2 separate regions of the Homo sapiens genome follow, and region 2 is linked to region 1. The links come from fine-mapping of genetic effects on gene expression. A gene starts in region 1. The other region holds a variant in brackets. All regions are shown on one strand. Distances are from middle to middle. Region 1 holds the start of MHENCR (melanoma highly expressed competing endogenous lncRNA for miR-425 and miR-489). Region 2 overlaps GMEB2 (glucocorticoid modulatory element binding protein 2).

What was found. PIP is the estimated chance that this variant, and not a neighbour inherited with it, causes the effect.
Region 2: its variant is the best candidate, but not a certain one, in a credible set for the expression of MHENCR in blood mononuclear cells (TOPMed, PIP 0.64).

What each region holds. Positions count from the first base shown.
Region 1 is chr20:63,624,858-63,629,238 of GRCh38, forward strand. MHENCR (melanoma highly expressed competing endogenous lncRNA for miR-425 and miR-489) reads left to right here and starts at 2,378. Exons shown (of 2, transcript NR_132417.1): 1 at 2,378-2,535; 2 at 3,333-3,967. It overlaps GMEB2 (glucocorticoid modulatory element binding protein 2), which reads right to left and starts at 2,244. Exons shown (of 10, transcript NM_012384.5): 1 at 2,099-2,244. RefSeq lists silencers at 1,606-2,145, 2,236-2,685.
Region 2 is chr20:63,596,970-63,601,350 of GRCh38, forward strand. It overlaps GMEB2 (glucocorticoid modulatory element binding protein 2), which reads right to left. Exons shown (of 10, transcript NM_012384.5): 5 at 788-891. Among named protein-coding and RNA genes, the nearest start is that of HELZ2, 25 kb to the left of the region's middle. RefSeq lists an enhancer at 837-1,006. The variant G/A (reference allele first, on the strand shown) is at 2,198.

The sequences.
Region 1 (4,381 bases):
CCACCACGCCCGGCTAATTTTTGTATTTTTAGTAGAGACGGGGTTTCACCATGTTGGCCAGGACAGTCTCGATCTCCTGACCTCGTGATCCGCCCGCCTCTGCCTCCCAAAGTGCTGGGATTACAGGCGTGAGCCACTGAGCCTGGCCTCCAATGGCAACTATATTAAAGGTTCAAAGCAATATGCACAAAAGTTACCTCACAGAAAATAGTGCAAGTCCTTGATACAATGCTCTTTAGACACAGAAGAAGCACTATAGAATAGAGCACCTCGCCCTATTGCCTTCCCAAGGGCGAGCACCCCCTCCTCTCTCCACAGCTCCTTCTTTGTTTTTTTGAGATGGAGTCTCGCTCTGTCACCCAGGCTGGAGTGCAATGGCAAAATCTTGGCTCACTGCAACCTCCGCCTCCCGGGTTGAAGTGATTCTCCTGCCTCAGCCTCCCGAGTAGCTGGGACTACAGGCACCCAACACGCCTAGCTAATTTTTGCATTTTTGGTAGAGACGGGGTTTCATCATGTTGGCCAGGCTGGTCTCGAACTCCTGACCTCCAGTGATCCTCCCACCTTGACCTCCCATAGTGCTGGGATTATAGGTGTGAGCCACTACACCTGGCCTCTCCACAGCCCCTTCTGTGTTGAAGCCAAGACCCACCCAGCTTTGATCCCAAGGCTTGGGTTCCCCACTAGTGTGAAGTGAGTTTCCAAATTATTAGGTAAATCAGATATGAGAAAATATTTTATTTTACTTTTTTTTTTTTGAGACGCAATCTTGCTCCGTCACCCAGGCTGGAGTGCAATGGCACCATCTCCACTCACTGCAACCTCTGCCTTCTGGGTTCAAGCAATTCTCCTGCCTCAGCCTCCCAACTAGCTGGGATTACAAGTGCACACCACCACGCCCGGCTAACTTTTGTATTTTTAGTAGAGACAGGGTTTCACCGTGTTAGCCAGGCTGCTCTCAAACTCCTGACCTCATGATCCGCCCACGTCGGGCTCCCAAAGTGGTGGGATTACAGGTGTGAGCCATCACACCTGGCCCAAGAAAATATTTTTAAACTAGTATTCTTGACCGGCACGGTCAACACTGATGTAATTGAAACTGTTGTATTTGAAGTGTTAGCAAAGAAAGAGAATTCTGGTTCAACAGAAAAGTCAGTCACGACTTTTCAGTCACGCATGAATTACACAGTAACCAAATAGATAACATGCCATGACTGACGACGGGCCCACAACAAATCAGCTCCGACCAACAGGGTCCACACCACCATGGGTCTACACAGATCCAGGTCCCGCCTGTGAGCCTACAGTGACGCGGGCCCCTGTGGGGTGGTCCCTGCAGGTCAGGTCCCTGAGAGTGGGTCCCAGTGGGGTGATCCCTGCGGGTCGCGTCCCTGCGAGTTGGGTGCCTGCCGGGTGGCCCCTGCGGGTCGGGTGCCTGCGGGGTGGTCCCTATGGGTCGCGTCCCTGCGGGTCGGGTGCCTGCGGGGTGGCCCCTGGGAATCGCGTCCCTGCGGGTCGGGTGCCTGCGGGGTGGCCCCTGGGGATCGCGTCCCTGCGGGTCGGGTGCCTGCGGGGTGGCCCCTGGGGATCGCGTCCCTGCGGGTCGGGTGCCTGCGGGGTGGTCCTTGTGGGTCGCGTCCCTGTGGGGTGGTCCCTGTGGGTCGCGTCCCTGTGGGGTGGCCCCTGCGGGTCGCGTGGTGGCCCCTGCGGGTCGGGTGCCTGCGGGGTGGTCCCTGTGGGTCGCGTCCCTGCGGGTCGGGTGCCTGCGGGGTGGTCCCTGCGGGTCGCACCCCTGCGGCGTGGTCCCCCCGGGATGGGTCCACCGAGGAGGCCGCTGGAGGCCGAGCCCGCGCCCGCCCGCGGCGCCAAGATGGAGGCAGGAAGCGCCGCCGCCCGCGCCCGCCACCGCCCGCGCCGCCCGCCTGACGCCGCCGTTGCGCCTGACGCCGCCGCCCGCGCGGCCGCCCCTCCCCCGGCCCTCCCCTCCCCCCGCCGTAACGTCCTGACGCTCCGCAGGGACCCCTGACTGGACGGCGGCGCGTGAGCGGAGCGAGAGGCCTCGCCGCGGGGGGGCCGCGGGCTCGCCGGCGCCGCTTACCTGGGGCCGCGCCGGGCCTGCTTAGGCACCCGGCGGGGGCGGCGGCGTCGGGAGCTGCGGCGGCGGCGGGCGGCGGCGGCGGCCGCGGGCTTCGCTCCTTGTTGGGGATTCGGCGGCGGCGGCGGCGCGGGCGCGCGCTTCCTAGTGACGCAGGCGGCGGGGCCGCGCACGCACGGGGCTGGGAGGGCCGGACACTTATTTGGCGCTCGCGGAGGAGGAAGGCGGGGCCGTGAAATAAGGCCCGACGGGCCCCGGGGCGCGTGCGCGGACCGACACTGTCAGCTCCTAACGCCGCAGGTTCCTCCTGGTCCCCGAGGCCCCCGGTCGGGCGTTGCCTGCCCCGCGCGGGCGGCCGGGCCGAGGGACGATGGTCAGTGGACGGACGGCGCCAGGGAGCAGTGCCCACGCGCGGCAGGGCGGTACCTTCAGGCCTCCAGGTACGGGCGCTCCTCGCCCGGACGCTGCTGTGTGTGAATGGGCGCGAGGGGACTCCCCTGCGGGGCGGACGCCTGAACACGAGGCTGTGGAGGAGGACGCTGTAGGGTGCGCGGACTCACGCGGAACATGCCAGAGGCTCAGCCAGCCACGGCGCTCCCAGCGTGGAGGGCGAGGGGCATCCGGGAGCGGCCGGGAGGGCTCGGTCACCCCTCAAGCTGTCACCCCAGTCCCACAACCAGCACCCCGATCCTATCGCAGTCCCACAGCCGACACCCCGATCCCACCCCTGCCCAACAGCCGGCACCCACCCCAATCCCATAGCTAACACCCCGGTCCCACCGCTGTCCCACGGCCGGCACCCCGATCCCACCCCAGTCCCGCAGCTGGCACCCCGATCCCACCCCAGCCCAACAGCTGGCACCCACCCCGATCCCACCGCTGTCCCACAGCCGGCACCCCGATCCCACCCCAGTCCCGCAGCCGGCACCCCGATCCCACAGCCGGCACTCACCCCGATCGCATAGCATAGCTGATACCCCGATCCCACCCCAGTCCCATAGCCAGCACCCCGATCCCACCCCAGTCCCATAGCCAGCACCTCGATCCCATAGATGACACCCCGATCCCGCCCCAGTCCTATAGCCCGCACCCCGATCCCACCCGAGTCCCGCAGCCGGCACCCCATCCCACCCATGTCCCACAGTCGGCACCCCGATCCCACTCGGATCCGGCAGCCAGCTTGGATCCTGTGGCCCTCCTCCAGCCCCCAGGGCTCATTTATATGTTTTATTGGCAGAGGCTGGGGCTGGCTCTGTTGGCCTCTGTGCTGGGTTTCTTCCTCTGCACCGCAGGACTGGCTCTCCTGACCTCTCCAGGTGTCATCGAACACCCTTGTGCTTGCTGTCACCCGCTGCCTGTCTGCAGGATCCCGGATTCCGTATCAGGGGACCGAAATTAGTCGGAAAATAGGAAGCAGGTGCTCGCTTGGATGGAACCCTGACCCTGTGCTCACACTTGTAGGAGGAGGGCTCTGCAGGCCGCCTCCCGGAACGGGAGGTTCCCAAGCCACTGCACTTCGGAGGGGCTGTAATTAGAGTTGCACATTCATTCAGTTCCCAGTAAAGTAGAACGTGCTCCAGCCAGTGAGGAAAAGGTGTTTTTAAAAATTAGATTGGCCGAGTGCGGTGGCTCATGCCTTTTACCTCAACACTTTGGGAGACAAAGGTGGGAGGATCACCTGTGGCCAGGAGTTCAAGACCAGCCTGGGCAACAGAGCCTGTCTCTGGGGAAGAATAAAAAAAAAAATTGAGCCTTTGTCAGTGCTACTATTTTATTATCTGGTAAATATGAGAGGGTTCACGCGGTCTATGTGTGTCATTTATCTGAGTTTGCCTATCGTCACGTTTTGGAAATAAATGTCAATAAAGTCGAAGAGGAGTGCTGAGGGGGGCCTGGGGATGGGAGGGTGGCTACATCATGCCTGTGTGTTGCGCAAGCCCACCGAGGTCGGCCTGGGGTGAGCCCTGGGGCCTGTTCTGCCTCCTTCACTCTGGGGCTCCAAGAGACAAACTGGGCAACAAGAGAGAAACTCCATCTAAAAAAAAAGAAAAATCACCTCCAAGATAACTTAGCTTTCTTCTGCTGGCATAACAAATTATCTCAAACTTAGTCGCTTAAAAATGCAAATTTAGGCTGAGTGCGGAGGCTCACGCCCATAATCCTAGCACTTTGGGAGGCCAAGGCAGGATTGCTTGAGGCCAGGAGTTCGAGACCAACATGGCCAGAACTGTCTCTTTTTAAAAAATGCAAATGTGTCCGGCACGGTGGCTCACGCCTATAATCCCA
Region 2 (4,381 bases), 28 kb before region 1:
TCATGCCACTGCACTCCAGCCTGGGCAACAGAGCAAGACTCCCTCTCAAAAAAAAAGTGAAAGAAAGGACAGAAATAAGGAGTAACATAAAAGGCCAAAATCTGATGCACAAATACCAGATTATACCTTTCTTTTATTTTTTATTTTCAGAATGCATAATTGGAACAGACCCTTTTCTTTTCCTTTTTATTCTTGTTTTTTTTTTTTTTTGAGACAGAGTCTCACTCTGTAACCCAAGCTGTATTGCAGTGGCACAATCACAGCTCACTGCAGCCTTGACTTCCAGGCTCCAGTGATCCTTCCACCTTAGCCTCTCGAGCAGCTGGGACCACAGGCATATGTCACCAAATCCAGATAATTTTTTTTTTATTTTTAGTAGAGATGAGGTCTCATTATTGTGCCCAGGCTGGTCTCAAACTCTTGGCGTCAAGTGATCCTCCTGCCTCAGCCTCCTAAAGTGTTGGGATTGCAGGTGTGAGCCATGTGCCCAGCCAACCCTTTATTTTACAACGCTGAAACAGTCACAAGTGCCTTCAGGTAAAGAATTGGTGGAAATTAAAATGACTGACAAAACAATTCTAAAAATCTGATAGTGTCCCTGTTGGCAGGAGTGTGGGAGACGGGTTTACAGTTTTGGGTGTGAGCAGGTGCAGCAGCCACCCGGGAGGTTGTCAGCACTCACCACATCTAAAATACGCCTCATCTTCAAAATCCCAAAACCCCACAAGAAAGCAAGAGCTGCCAGGGCCCCTTCCAGCAGGGAGGCTGACCCTGCGCCAGCGCCCACCTGAGCATGATGCCGTTCATGCGGATGGCTCTCTTCCAGTCCTTCAGGGTGGACTTCCCGGCCAGGTGCACAAATTCCTTTGGGCTGATTACATGCTCGTCGTACTGTGGGGGACACAGTCATGTGGGTCAAGCTTGGCCGGGACACCACATAGGGTGCCCCCATCTCCCATCCGACCCTGAGTCAGGCGCGCAAGGCAGGAAAAGCGCCACGGCACGGCTCTGACCGGTGCAGGCCTCCTACAGAGCATTCAGGTAAAACAAGGACATGACCCACAGGCACGGTGGCTGCAGTGGGGAGTGGTGTCTCCTCCAGCCCTGAGGGGGCAGAGCTGCTGTGTGCCTGGGGCTAGACAGGGCTGGGCTGACCACACCAGGTAGAAGGTGTGTGGCCTTCTCTTCCTCCAGGCAGACTAAGCAAACTGCTTCTGTGCAATGTATTTTATAAATACACGTTATTGCATACGTTACATCGCAGATGGCAACAGATGCCAGCACATGGGTGGAGCTGTGAACGCCACCTTCCTCAGGTCCCTCCTGACACCACCTTGCCCCGTGCAGCAAACACCGGCACCTGCTCTCACTCTGACACACACACACACACACACACACACACACTCATCTGTTTCTAAGCCAGGGGAACCCTCCTGCTTGCTAATTTCACCCATGTGGGAGCTCAGAGAAACTGAGAAGGTAAAATATCCTGTTCAATCTTGTTACACAAGCAATTATTGAAACCAAAAACTGGAATAAAACTGCATTTACTTAGAAAACAAGCAGGCTGGGGATGGAGGAGTCACGAGGTCTCTGCAGCTGGACCCAGGAGGCCCGAGTACGGGGGCCGCCTCCACCCCCGGGCCGTGCCCAAGTCTAGCTTGCTGAAGGAAGTGATGTTCCCAATCCCTGAGCCCACCCTCTCATGACCCCTGTGCCACAGACGGGAACACTAAGCCCAGCCAGTCTCTGGCTCTCCCTCATGCGGCTGATCAGGGAGATCCCATAGAAGTCCAGAAGGTGGAATCCAGAAGATTCTCTGGCCACTGTCGGAGCCTGGCAGGAAGGCTGCACTGGCTGTGACTGAGGCTGCTTCCGGCCATCACTTCTACCCAACGTGGCTCACACCTAGGAAACTCAACTGCACCCAAAGGGCCTGATCCTACCTAGGGCTCTGGGCTCAGCCAGCCTCACCTCCCTGCCCCTCCTAGGCCTGCCTCTTTCCTTTCTTGCTTTCACCTTTGTTACTCTTCTCACCCCAGGTTTTCCTCTCCCAGCTAGGAAGCTACATGCTGTACTCTCATGAGTGGCTCCAGGAGCTTCAGCATGTCACGCTTACCAGAGCTGCCAGAGCCCAGAGCTAACGCGGCCACTCCTGACCCCCCAGAGCTAACGCAGCCGCTCCTGACCCTCCAGC[G/A]CTAACGCGGCCCGCTCCTGACCCCCCGGAGCTAACGTGGCCGCTCCTGACCCCCCGGAGCTAACTCGGCCCGCTCCTGACCCTCCAGACCACAGCCACGTGGCCCTGCTCTCATCTCTGAGGCCCTCCAGGGCGTCTCTCTCGATGCTGAATAGACAGGACTGGTCGGGTGACCCACGTTTCCCCGACTCTTCACACCTCCTCACAGCACAGCGCTTCCATCTGGAGGCCTCCTATCTCCGCCTGCAATGCATATTTAGAACATCCTTCCATCATGATCTGCTGGTGGCAAACTCGTGTCTTTTTCTGGAAACGTCTTTCTTCCAGCATAATTTCAAAGACGACCTCACGGTGTCGTCACTCGCCACACAGTGAGGCTCTGGCGCTGCCACCTCTGCTCCTGCGCTGCTTTCGGGAGCTCACGGCCGGCGGGATTCTTGCTACTGAGCGATCCGTCTCTCCTCCTGGCTAGACTGAGGATCTTCTCTGTCCCCGTCCTTCTGGAATTTCATTATGATGTCACCTATGGTACATTTCTTTCGTGTTTCCAACTTCTAATTCTAATACAATTTCAAACTCACAGGGTAATTGCCAGGATAGTCCAGGGAGCTCTCACACGTGCGTTCCGGACTCACTGCCTGCTCCCGTCTGCCCCCTTGCCCCCGCCTAGACCTGTGCACGTGCAGCTACTGAGAGTGAAGCAGAGACGTCGGGCCCCTGGGCCCTCAACACTTGTGTATATTTCCTAAGAACAAGCTTCTCTTACGCAGCCACAGAACAACTCGCATCAGGAAATTATCATTCATACATTATTCTCTAATCCATTGTCCATAGTCAAATTCATGAATTGTTCCAATGATAGCCTTTATTGCAAAAAAAAAATTTTTTTTTTTGAGATGGAGTCTCACTCTGTCGTCCAGGCTGGAGTGCACTGGTGCAATCTTGGGCTCACTGCAACCTCCGCCTCCCGGGTTCAAGAGATTCTCTTGCCTCAGCCTCCCGAGTAGCTGGGAGTACAGGCACATGCCACCATGCCTGGCCAATTTTTTTGTATTTGTCGCAGAGATGGGGTTTCACCATGTTGGCTGCGCTGGTCTCGAACTCCTGACCTCAGGTGATTCACCCGCCTCGGCCTCCCAAAGTGCTGGGATTACAGGCGTGAGTCACCATGCCCAGCCTACATTTTTTTCTGATGCAGGATCCAGCCCAAGACTGTGGAGCATGCAGCTGCCTTGCTCTTCGGCTTTTGTCCCCATTAAGACTGCAGCAGGCCGGGCGCGGTGGCTCACGCCTGTAATCCCAGCACTTTGGGAGGCCAAGGCGGGCAGGTCACCTGAGGTCAGGAGTTCGGGCTCAGCCTGGCCAACATGGCAAAACCCCATCTCTACTAAAAATACAAAAATCAGCCAGGCATGGTGGTGGGTGCCCGTAGTCCCAGCTACTCAGGAGGCTGAGGCAAGAGAATCACTTGAACCCAGGAAGCGGAGGTTGCGGTGAGCCAAGATCGCGCCATTGCACTCCAGTCTGGGCAACAGAGGAAGACTCCATCTCAAAAAAAAAAAAAAAAAAAAAAGACGGAGCAGCTTCTCAGCCTGTCTGTGTTTTTCTTCACCTTGACGTTTTTGGAGCTTGTGGGTCAGGTATTAACGTAGGCTGTCTCTCCATGAGTGTCTGCTGTTTTCTCATGAGTAGAGTCAGGCTATGAACTGTTGGAAGAACACCACAGACCTGCTCACTGCATCAGGAGGCTCAAAGGGGAGGTCTGTCCCGAGCCTGATGATGTGAAGATGGATCGCTGGGTTAAGGAGGCACCTGCCAGCTTTCCCACCACAGCTACGACTTACGTCTGCAATGGCTGCATGGTTTACAGGGATGCTCTGAAACTAGTCTGAGCACCCGCTCATGACTCTGACCCCATCATTCCTCCCATGCTTTACTTCTCTCTATGCATTTATTTAACATAAATAAATAACATGAAATATATGGAGATAGGTATATAGACTCATAGATTTTATTTTACTCGAGTGATGACCCATGACTATCACTATTTATTTGGATGCTAAAAGCCACCCTACATGCAGGCAGTGGGGTCTTCATCCAGGCTGGGGTCAGTCAGGGCCCTTGCACTGTGGACCACTCTTTCTCAGTTATGAAAGTTCTCAGACTCTCTCTCCTCCTTCCAGA